Linked DNA regions of Homo sapiens: region 2 is linked to region 1. A link means that fine-mapping ties the variant in region 1 to the expression of a gene that starts in the linked region. Tissue or cell type: nasal epithelium. Region 1 holds a variant in brackets; the other region holds the start of a gene. All regions are shown on one strand. Distances are from middle to middle.

Evidence for each region. PIP is the estimated chance that this variant, and not a neighbour inherited with it, causes the effect.
Region 2: OSBPL6 starts here. The variant in region 1 is fine-mapped to the expression of OSBPL6 in nasal epithelium (TOPMed, PIP above 0.99).

Annotation. Positions count from the first base shown.
Region 1 is chr2:178,314,780-178,322,779 of GRCh38, forward strand. The region is part of intron 3 of OSBPL6 (oxysterol binding protein like 6); the gene reads left to right. Among named protein-coding and RNA genes, the nearest start is that of CHROMR, 95 kb to the right of the region's middle. The variant G/A (reference allele first, on the strand shown) is at 3,189.
Region 2 is chr2:178,190,447-178,198,446 of GRCh38, forward strand. It overlaps OSBPL6 (oxysterol binding protein like 6), which reads left to right and starts at 4,066. Exons shown (of 25, transcript NM_032523.4): 1 at 4,066-4,228. RefSeq lists silencers at 3,620-4,309, 4,756-5,050.

The sequences.
Region 1 (8,000 bases):
TTGCCAACAGCTAATGAGCAGTGGAGACAGGATTTGCTCCCTGGAACCCAGTTTCTGGAGCCCTTGTTCTTGGCCCCTCCACTATTAGATGTTGTAATGCTTGCCAAGCTGGATGTCCAGGCCTCCTGTATACTTTGAAGTGAACCTTGTAGGCAGCATTTGTCAATCATTTTTTAGTTAGGTATTGCCTCCTCATTTTTTTCCTTGAGCAATAATAGTAATTTTTCACATCCTTGATGGCTTGGGAAACTGTAAATCAAATGGTACATAGACTAAAATGTTAATAGTTATTATGAACTGTTGCCATCATAGGTGAGTTCTATGCTATCTGTGCTTTTCTCAATTTTTTGCATTTTTACTACACGTATTGCTTTTGGAATGAGAAGTTTTGATCATCTTTTTGCAATGAGAAGTTTTATTGACAACTGCTGTTAACCTTTCAACGAGCAGCTCCACAGCTTTCTTGGCATCGCCACCTTTTGGAGATCTCTGTCACTGTTGCATGGTGTTTACGGTACATGTTCAGTCCATGTCAAATGTGCTGAAATTGAGACCACTAGAAAGAGATTTGTTACCTGCAATGTGTTTTCCTAAAGGTCATATTTTATGAGTTTGTGTGTGTGTAGCTTTAAGACAGTATTTGGAATGTAGTAAATATGACAAAAGTGTCAGCAAATATTAAATATCATTATCTATTATATAATGGCACACAGATACTCATTACCCACAGATGATTCAGAACCCAGTGCTACTTGGTTAGGAGTCTGTTCACTGCTTTCCCTGGTGTGCCTGCCAAAGCCTTTCAGCTCTCTAGGCCTGCCTTTATCAGGTTTTTACTTTGGAGGTTATCTCTTGTTACCTTGAGATGACTGGTTTTGGGTGACATTTTTATAGCAGCAAATTCGTCTGTCAGATCCAAGATTAGCACTGCCTGTTCGGTTCTCAGGCATCACACCAAATAGACAGGGCCACAGTATCATGAGTTAATGAAGCCCAGAGGGTCTCATTCAGTAGGCCCTTGAAAAGGCCTGAGAATCTGTTGTTTACAGAAGCCACCCCAGGAGACTGTTATTCACTCAGTTTTGGAAATGATCACTTTACAGAGAACATTTTTAGGTGTTTCATTAGAACTATAAAAACGTCATCCCAAAGGACCATAGGTCTACAAAACTGCTTTATTTGATTTTCAACTTGGACAAACAGAAAATCTTACCTCCCTTTGTCCAGTATCCACTGTAACTCTCCTGGACTGGAAGTGAAATATTCTTACAAAGGTAAAGGAAAGTTCTGCACATACTGTATGTTTTATATTTCAAGTGCCAGACTTCCTGACCTCAACTCCCAATTAAGAGCTGATTTCTCAAAAATTTTAATAGCCAGCACTGGTGAGGCTTCAAGGAAATAGATACTCTCCTGCACTACTGCTAAGCATGTTAATTGATTTAGCTTTTTTGGAGTGAAATTTAGTGATATGTATCTAAAGTCTTTTTAAAAAGTCATACCATGGGACCCAGTAACTCAGCTTCTAAAAACATGTATTCTAAGGAAACAAAGATACATGTTAAAGATTTCAGTTAAAAAAATGTTTATCAAAGTATTTTTATAGTGGTAAAAAAATTAGAAACAGTCTAATGTTCAACAGGAGATATTTAAATAACCTCTCTCATAGCCACACAGTGAAATATTGCACAGCTGCTAAAAATGCTTTTGAATATTTAATGCTGTGGGAACCTTTTACTTTTAAAACCTCTGTAGCCACAGTTTCCAGATCCGTGGATTGAACCAGCCATTGTTGAGCCATATGAAGAGTTACATACATAACATGGTTTATGTAACTGCCGTGGATTGAAAATATCCCCCCTGCTACAACACAACAATCAAAATAATGCAAATAAAAAACAATACAGTATAACAACTACTTACATCGCATTTACATAGTATTAGGTATCACAAGTAATATGGAGATGATTTAAAGTATATGGAAAGATGTGCATAGGTTATATGCAAATACTATGGCATTATGTATAAGGGACTTGAGGATTTGTGGATTTTGGTATCTGCAGAAGGTCCTGGAGTCAGTCCCCCAAGGATACCAAGGGAGGACTGTATTGCTAATTGAAACCAAAAAACAAACAAACAAAAAGGCTATTAAATTGAAAAAATAGTACAATTTTTATTTTGTTTTTAAGAATTGAGTGTGTATATGCATTGAAAAAAAGCTGAAAGAAGATATATCAAAATATTGAAAAAGTTTATTGCTGGTTATGGGTGGTTTTAATTTCTATTTTTCTGTTTTCCCCCCAAAATTTCTGCAAAGAATGTGTTTCTCTAAAGGTCATATTATATGAGTTTGTGTGTGTATATCTTTAAAACAGTATTTGGAATGTAGTAAATATGATAAAATTGTCAGCAAATATTAAATATCATTATGTATTATATTAAAATATAATGAAATTGCAAACCCTACCTCGATAAGAATAAAATTAGAAGTTAAATGAGTATGAAGGATATTATGCCACATAGGAAGCTTGGCACAAGTTTTTCAAACCACTTTGAGGTGCTGAGGCATGAGGTGGGTCACCTTTTGTCTTCTTTCCTGCTTACATTTGATCTCACGGTAATTTAACTTAATTATGTCGCAGCAGAAACTTAGACACCATATATATATATATATATATATATATATATATATATATATATAGAATAATTATTCATTCATTCAGCAAACATTTATGAGAACATATTGTATATGATGAATATTTGCTGAATGAAAGAACATATATTCTCATAAATATAAGATCTGATATCAATACATGTTCTTATAAATATTTGCTGAAAGAATGAATATGATATATATATGAATGATATGCTCTCAGTTTATAAGGGTGATCAAAACAGTCCAACTTTCTGTCTCAAATGAACCTACATAAATATTAAAAAGATGTATATGGACTTTTTTTTTTTTGCTTGTATTGTTAGCAAAATCACGTAAGTGATTATCATACTAAAAAATCCTTACCCTGGGTAATTTTAAAAGCCTTTTAGAAAATTACAGATTAACTTTAGTATTATTTTCAGGTCACAGTTTTCCTGCCTTTAAACTGACTCTACATGTTCCAGAGCGTTAGCTCTTGATATGCCCTGGTATTTGTCTATGTGATTTGCCATTTGTTTATAATTGCCGTAAT[G/A]AAGCATGATCCGTATGTGCTTATACTCTGGTTGCTGTGGTTTCCTCTGATTTAGTTATGCTGTTGAGTGTTATGAGTACAGAATAAGGAGGAAGTTCACCAGTAAGCTCTGGTTCTATTTCTACTTAAAGGCAACTGTGGGAATTAAAAAGCTGTTTATTCCCATACCTTTTATCTCTTTCATAGTCAATATTGCTGAACTACTCTTTGCTATCAATGGACCACTTGATGGGTCCACATGGTATTTCTTACAATACAGGGTGTCTTAAAACAGGCCAGTTCAATGGTGAGGCTATAGTGGTTGATTCATAATTCTGTGCAGGAAGGGATGGGACTGTGCTCACTTTGCTTTTCTCCCTTCAGAATTTCCCAGGTGTGCTGTGTAGACTTTTTTCAGCCACTGTTTCTAAAATTTTCTACTTTCATTCATTTTAAGGGTGCTTATATAGAGACCTACTGTTAATGCACTTCTGCATCTTTCAGTGAAGGCCAGATAATGGAGAAAGTAGTATAATTGCTACTTCTTCAGCCATGGCCTTTTGGCTTTGGTGATTTTAATATTTTATGCTAGTGCAAAGAAAAAACTGTTTTGAAGGAAAATCCACATGCATCTTCTGCTGCAGGCATTCAGAAGGATGCAATCTATGCCGCCATCACTGCTGTTGCCTTCCCATTAGAGAATATCTAGGCCATCTCTCTCAACTCACGTTGACAGCTCTCTCACCAAATTTTGATGTCCTGATCATGAGGTGATGCTGACCATGGTTACTGGGTTTGCTGGGTAACGTGATGGTCATGGAAGGCACGGCTTCCTCACTTCCAAAAGGGCTCCCAGGTGTCAGACACCAGCAAAGTGTTTGAAAGTCATCTTTCTGTGGCATGGGAATGCGTAAGATTCCTAGATATTTATTCCTGTAATGTTTATAACTGAGATGATAGCTGCTATTTATTGGGTGCCTACTGTGTGCCAGCCTTTGGGCAGCACTGTGCATACACTGGATGCCTACCCTGTGACTTGCAGTGTCTTGTAAGGTAGATATTATTATCCTCATTTTACAGATAGAGGACACTGAGGTTGAAAGAGGTTAATGGTTTGTCTACGTGTCATAGTAAATAGCAGATGAGGGTTGGTATGCTGGTCTGTAGAGCTGCAAAATTTATGTTCTTTTGTCTGCACCATACACCATACCCCCAAAGTAAAAGCTAGCTGACTTGCTCTCAGTTCTGGAAAATTACAAATTGTCTGGTTTGAGTGTGTTTTTGAAAATAAAATAAAATTAGAAATTGGAAATTAACTTGAGTGTGCTGTAAGGGTAACAAAGAAATTATCCCTAAGATTGTACCATATTTAAGAGTGCTATAATTTTTTCTTTTTTATTTCACTCATTTCTACTTCTCTATATCCACAGAAGATTGTGGTAAAGAATGCTTTGTGATATGTTCATTTATCAATTTGAAATTTCTGTTATTTTTGTCATTTGACATTAGCTTTCATGTTAATTCAGAAGGCCATATATACAAGCTTGACTCGAGTAAAATCTTGTCACCTTCCAACTCCAACCCTTAGTGACTGTGTGCCTCTCTTAATCTCTATATCCCTTTATCTGGTCAGTCAGGCAGATCATTAAATAGTCATTATTCAAAGGCTTGTGAAGATGGAATGCAATAATTCATGTAAAGCATAGAGATAGGAATGTAAAAACCAGTAACTATTAACTGCCATTGTCATCATTATCATCAACACTATCCTACAGAAGTTACTAGTACCACTGAAATAGTGTTGCTACGTTCAAAGTAGCAGCTATAACTAGAAGAGATACATGCGAGATAGCTGAAAGCTTGAAGAACGTACTTTAGAAATTCCTAAATTATTTTGGATATTTTTCTTTGAAAATATTTTGGGTAATCTGTGAATATAAAAATAGCTTAGCTAAGATAGTTAGGTGAACAATTTCAATGGAGTTAACATTCAGAGAGCAGTGGACCAATTCTCTTTACTACTGTCCTAAATTTATAGAAAAAGTGAGTCTGTAAAGAAATTTGTAGCCTCAGTCTAAAACATTTCCAGCAATGTCTTTATATCTTTGTAATGAAATTTAAGTAAGTAAATGACAAGATCCCTATTCAACAGATCTCCTGGACTCTCATTTTGAGAATCACGTTTCTCTCCGCGTGAGTTGCACCAAACCATTCAGCTATTATTAAGTGTCTCATTGTCTGTCTGTTTACCTATGTCTTTGATACCAAGTAAACTAGACTACAGTCATGTTGGCACATTTCCACTTGCTGCTCAGGAGGTATTGAGATCAATGAACACTAACCTGAGGAGCATATTTTTACCAAATTAAAGAGCTACAGTGAAATATGTGTTCCAGGTTCCTGGTTTTAAGCTAAATATGCATCAGTTATCTCTGATCAGGGGAAACAGAGGGCGGGTAAGTACTTCCACCTTCTCTGTGTGTTCTAAGTTCCTTAAAAAACTGACCTGGAAATTAACTTATAATTTTAGCATTTGAGAGGAAACTTGATTTTAGAAGAATAATTAACTGGTTTACATAACCCTTTATTTAACTTGCTTACATAATGTGTGTAACACCTTGAAAGTAGTGGCATGTGTTTCCAATTCACTCTGAAAGAATATGAAAACAGCTATCTTGTGAAGAAAAGTACAAAAATTATACCACAAATTATGATCTTAAAGGAAGCCTTATGAAAAGAACTGATTTTTATAACTGAAGATGTCATGAAATTAAATTTGATGTGTTCCCTAATGACTACTCATAGCTTTAAATTGAATAAGTAAGAGTTCTGTGATTAATCCGCTAGATTTTCCTGTTTTAAAACTTAGGCTTTTTAACTGTTTTCAAAAGTTCTATCCTATTGGAGCATGATTTTTATAATTCCAAGATAGGCTGGGTGCAGTGGCTCACGCCTGTAATCTCAGCACTTTGGGAGGCCGAGGCGGGTGGATCACAAAGTCAAGAGATCGAGACCATCCTGGCCAACATTGTGAAACCCCGTCTCTACTAAAAATACAACCGGGCGTGGTGGCACGCACCTGTAATCCCAACTACTCTGGAGGCTGAGGCAGGAGAATCTCTTGAACCCGGGAGGCGGAGGTTGTAGTGAGCTGAGATTGTGTCACTGCACTCCAGCCTGGCGATGGAGCAAGACTCTGTCTCAAAAATAATAATAATAATTCCAAGATAAAGCTGGAAGGTAATTGATTGCTGAAGGACTGTTCTCTGCAAATTAGCACTAAAAAATTCCACACATTTTTGACTGGCTTCAGTGTGCAGATTGTTGTGCTAGGATGGGGTGGATTACGGGTAGAGAAGATGGAATTCCAGGATGAAGATGAGCTTGTCCCCACCTTCAAGGAGCACTCAATCTAGCTAGAGGCCAGGACTGGGTATGGTCAGTTTAAACTGTCTTCTTTATAGCTGCTGGTGTAAAAAAATACAACATTCAATTACTTAGATATTTCATTTAAAATAACAAATTGCTTGGTATATAATTACATAACTTTAGGGTTATGCTTTTTTTAAAACCATGAGTTTGGAGAAAATTCAAGGTAGTGGATTAATTTTTTATTATTGAATAGACAATGATAGGTTCTAGACTCGTGAGTTTCTACAAGAGCTGTTGGCTTCTTCATTGTCATCCTGGAGGTTACATGGAATAGCTTATTTTTTGAAGCTAGTTACAATTACAATAATGGGTAGCAGCTGGTAGTTTTCTAAATTGTCCTTTAACTTTTTCAGTAACAAATACATACATTAGTGATAATAAAAATATTCATTTACTTGCTATGTCTCACTAAATGTTTTTTATGATTCTCTGGGCTTTGACAAATCAACAGAATTTAGGGTTTAGATATATTGTGCTATATTTGAAGTGATTGAACTTCTTATTTTTCTTCCATAATATAAACTGTTTTGTAACATCAAATGGAGAAGAGACTAATATTGTTTTCTTTGTGCTAGGTACTGTGGTAGGTATTTTACAGTTGTGGGTCCTGGTTTGTGTGGTTGCTAACTAACCCTTCTGACCCACATAATTCTGGCAACATCTTAAGTATCCCCTCGTATCTATACAGGAAAAATTTATTTCCATCACACTTCAAATATACCACATTGATTTCTATATCTATGGCTTGACTTGGAAGTTAGGGGATTTAATTTCCTTTCCCTAGCTTAGTTACTTTATTTCCTGCCTACATAGTTACTAAGGTCAAGTTTCTTTCCAGGTTTTGTTTTTCTTACCACGTTTTTTTGGAGGTGGGGGAAACAGTTGGTGATGTATCTGTGTTTTATTGCCCAGCAACCTGAAAGGATGGGGATCGGGGAGAGTCGTTAAAGAGAAGCTCAGATCAGAGATACCTGACTGGAAGATTAAAGTAAGCAAAAGCAGTAGCCACATGAAACAAGGTTAATATGTGGGCTTACAAAGAAGTCCTAACCATGATTTGGTCTTTTGTATGATAAGAACTCTTTCTAGAATATAAGCATCATAAGAGTAGTTCTCTTGTCTGTTTTGTTCTCTGTGGCCCTGTCATCTGTGCCTGGCAAAGTGTAGGTGCCTAATAATGACATGTTGATAAATTGAACTATGAATGAATAAATAACGTATTTCACTGGTAGTTTCTGGTCTTGTACTTTATTATATTTATTTGAATGAAGTTTTTTGTTGATATTCTATTAAATAGTGAGGGAGAAACTTGCTACTAAAGTGTGTAATTTCTAAATGGTTATTTCAAAAATTACGTTGGAAACTTCTTTTCCTATGGAAAATTATCTCAAAGTATAAGGT
Region 2 (8,000 bases), 120 kb before region 1:
CAAAGTAGGTTAATTTAGTAATAATAAAAACATTTTCAAAGCTGAACTCTCTCAAGTAACAAATACAAGGCAAAACTATGAATATTTTTGCTATTTGAATAAAGCACAGGTAGCGTTCATCCTTAGAGTCTCTTGGCCTCACATTTTTCCAGGTTTCTTAGCTATTTGCCCTGCCTTAACAGTCCCCAAGTGACTGCTCCCATCCAGGCCTCCTGAAGCAGATCCAGCCTAAGCTCCTGGCAGACGGGCTTCCATCAGGGAAGCAGGACCATTGTGAATATGTTGAATAAGGAATTTATTATAGAAATTAGGGCTGGGCACAGTGGCTTACACCTGTAATCCCAGTACTTTGGGAGGCTGAGGTAGGCAGATCACCTGAGGTCAGGAGTTTAAGACCAGCCTGGCCAACATGATAAAACCCCATCTCTACTAAAAATACAAAAAATTAGCTGGGCATGGTGGCAGGCACCTATAATCTGAGCTACTCAGGAAGCTGAGGCGGGAGAATTGCTTGAACCCAGGAGGTGGAGGTTGCAGTAAGCCGAGATGACACCACTGCACTCCAGCATGGGCGACAGAGGGAGACTCTGTTTAAAAAAGGAAAAAAAAAAAAAAAAAAAAAAGACATTACGTCACATTTGTGGGAGGAGTTGGAGAAGTAAAAGTCTAAAAGTCTGAAAAGGGGAGTTAAGGGATCAGAGAACAATCCTGATTTGGGCAGAGGAGTCCAAGCTTGCAGGGAAATCTGGATATTAGGCTAGGCACATCCAGCTGCTGTAGTGAGAGTACAAAGATGGTTGGTGTAGACATCTACAGAAGGTTGTTGGCTCTTTATGATTGCTGCCTCTGTGAGTTTCTGTGAAGAGTCTGTTAGCTAGCCTGTGGTCACAGTTACTTGTCAGAAGCGAATACAGAGCAGGGAAGAATGAGAACAAACAGGAACTCTCCTGCATCTCTTCTCATTGGTTAGAAATGGCATTTGTCTCTCGCCACCTCTAACCAATGACGACTTTCATTACATCTTGACAGTTGTCACTGGTTAGAGGTGGCGAGAGACAAATGAAGATGCTGCTTCAGTATTGCCTCCTAAGTCTCAGGTAACTTCAATTTTGTCTGTCTGGAAGCATATACAAAAGGGGATTTGGGGAAACATAGTTTCCAGCATAACCATGTTGCCTATAGAACAATCTAGTATGATGACCATACCTTGTCTGCAAAGTATGGGATTTGTTTCTCTAGTCGCTGTCAGACAGGTCAGATGACGACTCATCCTGGAAGCTGGAGGAAATGGGAGGTAGCTTTCAGGTAAATTTCTTCTTCAGTCTTTTCTTTGATAGACTGTTCTTGGGCACAGTTTTGCATGGCTAAGCAATTGGCTGTGTCTTCTCAGGTTCATGAAGCACAGGCCAGGTTGGTAACATATCACTATGTATTTGCTTTCTATTCTTTCCTGTCTCATTTCTCCTATTCCTCATTTGTTGCCCTGGGTTTGCATCTTTCAAGGAAGCATTAGCACTTCAGCCTTCCTAAAAACTCCAGCTAAAATAGTACTCATCTAAGAAAATGCAATGAAAACGAAGTGGGACTTGGATGAATTGATGGGGGAAACTGATTCCTATGAGGCTCAGTTCAGTTGTATGTGATGGAATTATAGCATCGATGGCTTTTAAGAACATCATTATCTTTCTTCACTGGAAAAGTCCATGAACAAGTATTTTCTGAGACAAAAGGGATGGATTAGGGGAGCTGAGATCCTTTTAGTCAACATATGACTTGTGACTTTAACACTCAGCAAGAATGTACGCTTAATGAAAACTTTGCTCTCTGGCACTGGCACTTTTTTGAGCAATAATCCTGCCATAGCTCAAAAAGCAGTGAAAAGCCTGTTATTCATATTTACATATCTATGCCAGTCTGAGTTTTCAAGATACACTGATGCACCAATAGGGTGGAGAAACTGCCTTGATCTCTAGTTCCGCACAGCCCGCTGTGTTTAATCCACCCATTTCCCCAGATGGATGCGTGTAGTACCGTTACCTCTTATTTGACCATTAATCAATGAGATGGGGGGAGACTTTTTTCCCCTGATGTTTAAAGCCATTTTTTAAAACTATTAAAACACACATAGATACTATGGAATAGAGTGAAAAGCGTGAGAACATTCTTACACTAAAACGTGAGATTTAGGTTGTGGTAGTCCCCTCTCTTTCCCCATAGTTTATGGTTCTCTGCTATTAGGGGTTCAGAGAAAAAATTAGATAACCTCTTCTTTTTCTTTCTTTTTTTTTTTTTTTGAGAGTCTCACTTTGTAGCCCAGGCTGGAGTGCAGTGGCACGATCTCAGCTCACTGCATCCTTTGCCTCCCAGGAAGTTGAGATTTCAGGAAGTTCAAGCGATTCTTGTGCCTCAGCCTCCCGGGAAGTTGAGATTTCAGGTGCCTGCCACCACACCCTGCTAGTTTTTGTATTTTTAGTAGAGACGGGGTTTCACCATGTTGGTCAGGCTGGTCTCCAACTCCTGACCTCAAGTGATCCGCCCGCCTTGGCCTCCCAAAGTGCGGGAATTAAAGGCGTGAGCCACCGCGCCGGGCCTAGAGAACTTCTTTAGGTAAAGATTCTGTGTGCTGTGTGTACTCTCATTTCCGTTCACACTTTTGTATTTCTTTTTAAATACATGGGTTTTAGCTTTTTTTCTTTTAAGGGAGAAAGCCATTTCAGTAGAGTTTCTGTTAATGGAACTCAGAAGGAGTAAGTAGAAAGGGTGGCTGTGATGAAGCAGAGGTCAGCATCCCAGCTGCTCCCTTGAGGAGCCTGTCTTCACAGCAAAGGAATGAAGGACAAACTGCCATTGTCGCAGGGTCCCGCATCTATTATTTTGTGACCAGAGGACATGAGAACATTGCTAGTCTAGATGGAAAAAGCTAATCCAACAGGTGAGATTGGAGATTCAAGAGAAACTGCATGTGGGAAGGAGTGCATAAAGTCGACTATGTTTCATAGCAAATCATTTTGTCAGCACAGGGCACAATGAAATGCCATCACAGTTGCCTCATTAGTAAGCAATATCTTCCATTTTTGAAGGCACCCCAGCATGTTCTGTAATAGCTCCCATTAAGTCCAGTCGATGTCCTCTGGACTCCCCCTCCGCCTCCCACCCCCAGATGATGATGACACAAATGTCTTGAAATATTGACATGTCCGCAGTCACTCGTTTACAGAATGTCTGTACAAATATTTACATTACCCCGTCCCTCCCAGCAAATTTGCCTTTAGATTAATCTGCACACCGAACGCAGGCCGGGAGTGGCTTGGAGTGTGGAAGGGTTTAAGGGTGTGGAAGGGTTGTAGTGAGGCGGGACTGACTGACTTTGATCGGCTTTGCCAGGGGCTTGAAGGAACCGGCTCTTCCTTTCGCAGAACCCAGGTGTTTCTCTGGGCCCGGGAAGTTTTTGCTCCCGAGCGAGTCAGGGACGGGAGCAGGCACGCACAGTCGCGTAAGTGTATGAAATGACGACCTCAGAAGGGCGCCCAGGGACATGGGTTTGGCAGCCCCGAGCGGAGGCCGCCAGGCAGCCGTTCCTTTCGGAATTCGGTCTCCCGCAGTGCTCCCGGCTGCGGCGCTCCTGGGCCGAGCGCTGGAGCCGTTCTGGGCAACCCTCCCGAGCGCGGCCGGCTCACCTCCGCCGGACTGCGCGGGGCGAGGGCTCCGCTACTGCGCGCAGGCCCGCGGATGGCAACTCGGGGTTTCCACTGCGGGTGATCTCGGGACACCACGGGTTCCCACGGAGGCCGGGCCAGGGGAGAGCCCTGGCTGTGGGACCCCGCGTGACCAGGGCGCAGGGCGCCGGGTCCTTAGCCCATCTGGCGGCGCAGGGAGGGGCGCCCGGTAGGGCGGGTGCGCAGCATGAGCCCCAGCCGCTTGCCGCTCCACTCCAGCCGGGCGGACGGGCGGGAGCCGGGGGCGGGGAACCCGGAGCGCCGCCCCGCCAGCGCGCCCCGCCCGTGGGAGAGGAGGGGCTGCAGCGCAGCGGACCACTGGAGGCGCAGCACGGTCGCCGCCGCCGCTGTCGGTGCTGGAGATCGCGGCTCGGTGCAGGCGGCGCCCATGCCTCCTCTCCTCCACTAGCCCGCGCGCCAGTCCGCCTGCCGGGGCCGGCTCTCCGCCTCCTGCCTCCCGTCGCAGCCGCGCAGCCGCCGCAGAGTCCGCGGCGCCACCGCTCGCCCTCCAGGTAGGTGTCCTAGCTGCAAAGGGATTGCTTGGGGCGGGCGCCAAGGTGCCCGCATCGCGGCCCGGGGGCATTGTGCGCCTCCGGCGGGCCGAGGACCCCGAGGGACGCGTGGGTGGGCAGCCGCAGCTTCGGGTCCCCAGGACATCGCCGTCCCCCTGGAGGCGCCCCCGGCCGATAGCCCGGGCTACAGGGAAGTGGGGGCGGCGGTGTCAGCCCATTCTCGCGGCCGGGATGGGAGGGGGCGTCTGTATCGCGGTCCCGGTTTGCCGCCCTCCCTCCCCCTCGTTGCCAGGGAATTCCGGCCGCCTGCCACTAGCGCTCGCATTCCCTCGCGCGGGCCGGCGCCCCTGCTCCCCGCAGGCTGCCTGGGGATTGAAGCAGGGGCAGGGAGAAGGACTGATGTAATTGTCAGCGGAAAACCGAACCGGCGCGGGTGAGAGCGCCCGCGCCCGCGAGAGCTAACGCCTACGCCGCACCTTTCAGGGAATCGGGGAAGCCGAGAGGAGCGGCTGGGGAAGTTGTGCATTGGGTTTTATTGTGCGCGTGCACTGCGGACTGCCCTCGCGGGGCACCCCTGCCCACCCGCTGCTGGCGCCCCTGCAGCCCTCCCGGCAGCCTCCGTCCACTCCCCCGGCCAGGGCCAAGTCTGCCTTCCCTGGTTCAGACCGGGACAGCGTTTGCATTGCAGTCAAGACGTGCTTCCCCTGCATCAAGCCGGGAGCTGCCCGCAGATCGTGTCGCCGGGGATGCTGGGGGAGGAGGGAATGGGAGACCTGAGGAGAAAGCCTGGAGAAGTAATGACACAAGCGGATTTTCTCCCCAAAGCTTCTGCTGCGTATAGACACATCTGCAAGGCACCTTTTAAGCTGTTTTTGAAAGTTATAACCAGATACTGATTTTGTGACAATTCTATGATATACCTGAACGGTTGCTTAAACATAGAGACCTAAAGCTAGGGGAAGCATTACATAATGGACATGAAGCAAATGACACGAAACTAAGTGAACCCACTGGGTTGCCAGATTATTTCTCTCTTCTGGACACAAAATCCTGTAAGGTTTTTTCTATAGGAACTTTCATTTTTAAATTGCTGGGCTAAGTTTAGCCAATTGTCTATTATATTCAGTTGTGATTTTTTTTTTCTAAATAATTTTCTTGGACATCTTTTCTTAAATTTAAAAATTGCATACTAATGGTTACATATCACTAAGCTGATTAGGAAATGTAGTCTTCACAAGGTAAAAATAAGAAATTTCCCATCTTAATACATTAACTTTGTTTTCCTCTTGTTTTGTTTTTGTTTCTTTTCCTTCTTTCATCCTTCCCCCCGCCCCCAACCCCCGCTTTATTTTTTGGAAACATTTCTACAGTTTTGGGTACTGCAAGCTCACAACGTTGATATTTCTATCACATGCTACAGCATTGCGGAGACAAAGACTAATAATAAATGAAACAGAAGACCTCGCAGTAACTCTGAGAGTTAGCAGGGTTCCCAAGGTCGAAGGGAAGCTGCAGTGTAATTCAGCAATAATCACCTACAGAGAATATGCATAGCCCTCATTGGGAAAGGCCCTGATTGGTGGATTTTATTATTATTATTCTTTTGCAGTAGGAGTTCATATATTTTTTCCCTAAAAAATAATTTTTCTTAAGGTAAAAATGAAATATTTTGAAATTAAAATTTCAGGCTTTTAGAAAGCCTAAAAATTCTGGTTTTGCTCATATTTTTGGATGCAATGTTGATAACGCCATTATACATTCAGTGGATGGATTACCTTTGGCGGTACCTCAGTTTCAGATTACTATGACTTGTCAGGTGACTCTTGGCTTTAGTATGAGGTAGTTCTGCTGGACTTTTATAGGATCACATATGTAAGTTTTCTTATCCCTAGATTGCTATAACCTTAAGTTAACTTTATTTCAAGGAGAAAAATAAAGTCCTTCCAAGATGAAATCTTTGTGGTTGGAGGTCTTAGTACCACCACAGATACCGGATTAGGTAAACTGCATAAGGAGATAAAAATTCTTATGACTTTACTCATGAAACTGTTGGACTAGAGAGAAGATAATATAGTTTTGAAAGGTAAGGCATACATTCTCAAAAGAAGGATTTTGTTGTTTTGCTGCAAAGGTTAGGTCATAATTATGATACTTTTTAAAAAGTGGTTTTAAATCTTGGGGGAAAAAGGGTCTCATAGTATCCATTGACTTCTGGAACTTTTTTTTCCTCACTCAATATTATATCTCTGGATTCATTCATACTGTATGTAGTTGTAGTTCACTGACTTTCACTGCAGTAAAATATTCCATTATGTGTCTTATAACGCAGTATGTTTCTCTTTTCTCCTCTCTGACCATTTTTTTTTTTTTTGAGATATTGCAGTGTTGCTCTGATTATTGTTGTTTCCTGGGCACACGTGCCAGTGTTTCTCTTGGGTTAATACCAAGGAATAAAATTGCTGGTTTGTAGGTTATGTGAATATTCAACTTATTAAGTATTGCCAAATTATATTCCCAAATGGTTGTACTAATTTACATAAACCAGGGAAACAACCAAATACAAACACTAAATAAAAACATGCACTTCTGTTTTGCATATATGTCTGTTGAAATACATATCTTTTTAGAAAGCAAGAGAATGATGAACGTAAAACTTAGAATGGCAGTTATCTTTTATATGGACTGGAGGGTAGCATGTGGGGAGGAACACACACATGGATGTTTGTTATTGATAATGACCTAGTCCTTGGGTTTCATGGTGAGTTTCTAGGTGATCATTGTACAGTAATTCCCCCGTTATCCAAAGGGAGTATGTTCCAAGTTCCCTAGTAGATGCCTGAAACCTCCGATGGTGCCAAACCCTATGTATATGCTTCTTTTCCATGCATAGATACCTATGATAAAATTTAATTTATAAATTAGGTACAGTAAGAGATTAACAATCATAATAAACAGAACAATTATTAACACTATACTGTAATAAAAAGTTATGTAAATGTGGTTTCTCTCTCTTTCAAATTATCTTATTACACTGTATTTACCTATTCTCAGAACCAGATTGACCATGGGTAATTGAAACTTTGGATGGGGGTAGATATTGTATTAAAAAAAAAGAAAGAGGATAATGCATGGACCAGTGATGATATTTTAAGGTTCTAAGGAAAAAGAAAATAAGGACAATAGAGTTATCACAAGACAATAAGCCTACAAGATATTAGTTGAAAGATGAAGATGCAGTCCCTATGCATAGGCATGAGTTGCCCAGAGTTCATGGAAGAAATTTGCAAAAAGGTTGAGCAGGAAGTGGTCATGCTGAGAAGAGGAAGGCTGTTGTGGACTTAGAAAATGATATGAACAGAAGTTGAGGGAGCCATGAGAAATTTTCCAACAGTGAACCACTCAAAGCATTTATACACTAAGTTTAGGGAACAGATAGGTGGGGACTACCAGGAGAGATCCAAGGCTCCTCGTTAGGAGGCACTGCTGATTGAGATGAGAGTTCTCAAGTTTGGAGAAAATGAAAAGGATTAGTTTAAAAACTAAAACTACTGTCCTAAAAAAGAAGAGGAGAGTCAAAGGTATTTGACTATAATGAAAAGAAATATGAAGAATCTTGGCGTGTAGTATCAATTTTTTTTTTTCTTTCCAGACAGAATCTCGCTCTGTCGCCCAGGCTGGAATGCAGTGGCGCAATCTTGGCTCACTGCAACCTCCTGGGTTCAAGCGATTCTTCTGCCTCAGCCTCCCTAGTAGCTGGGACTACAGGTGCATG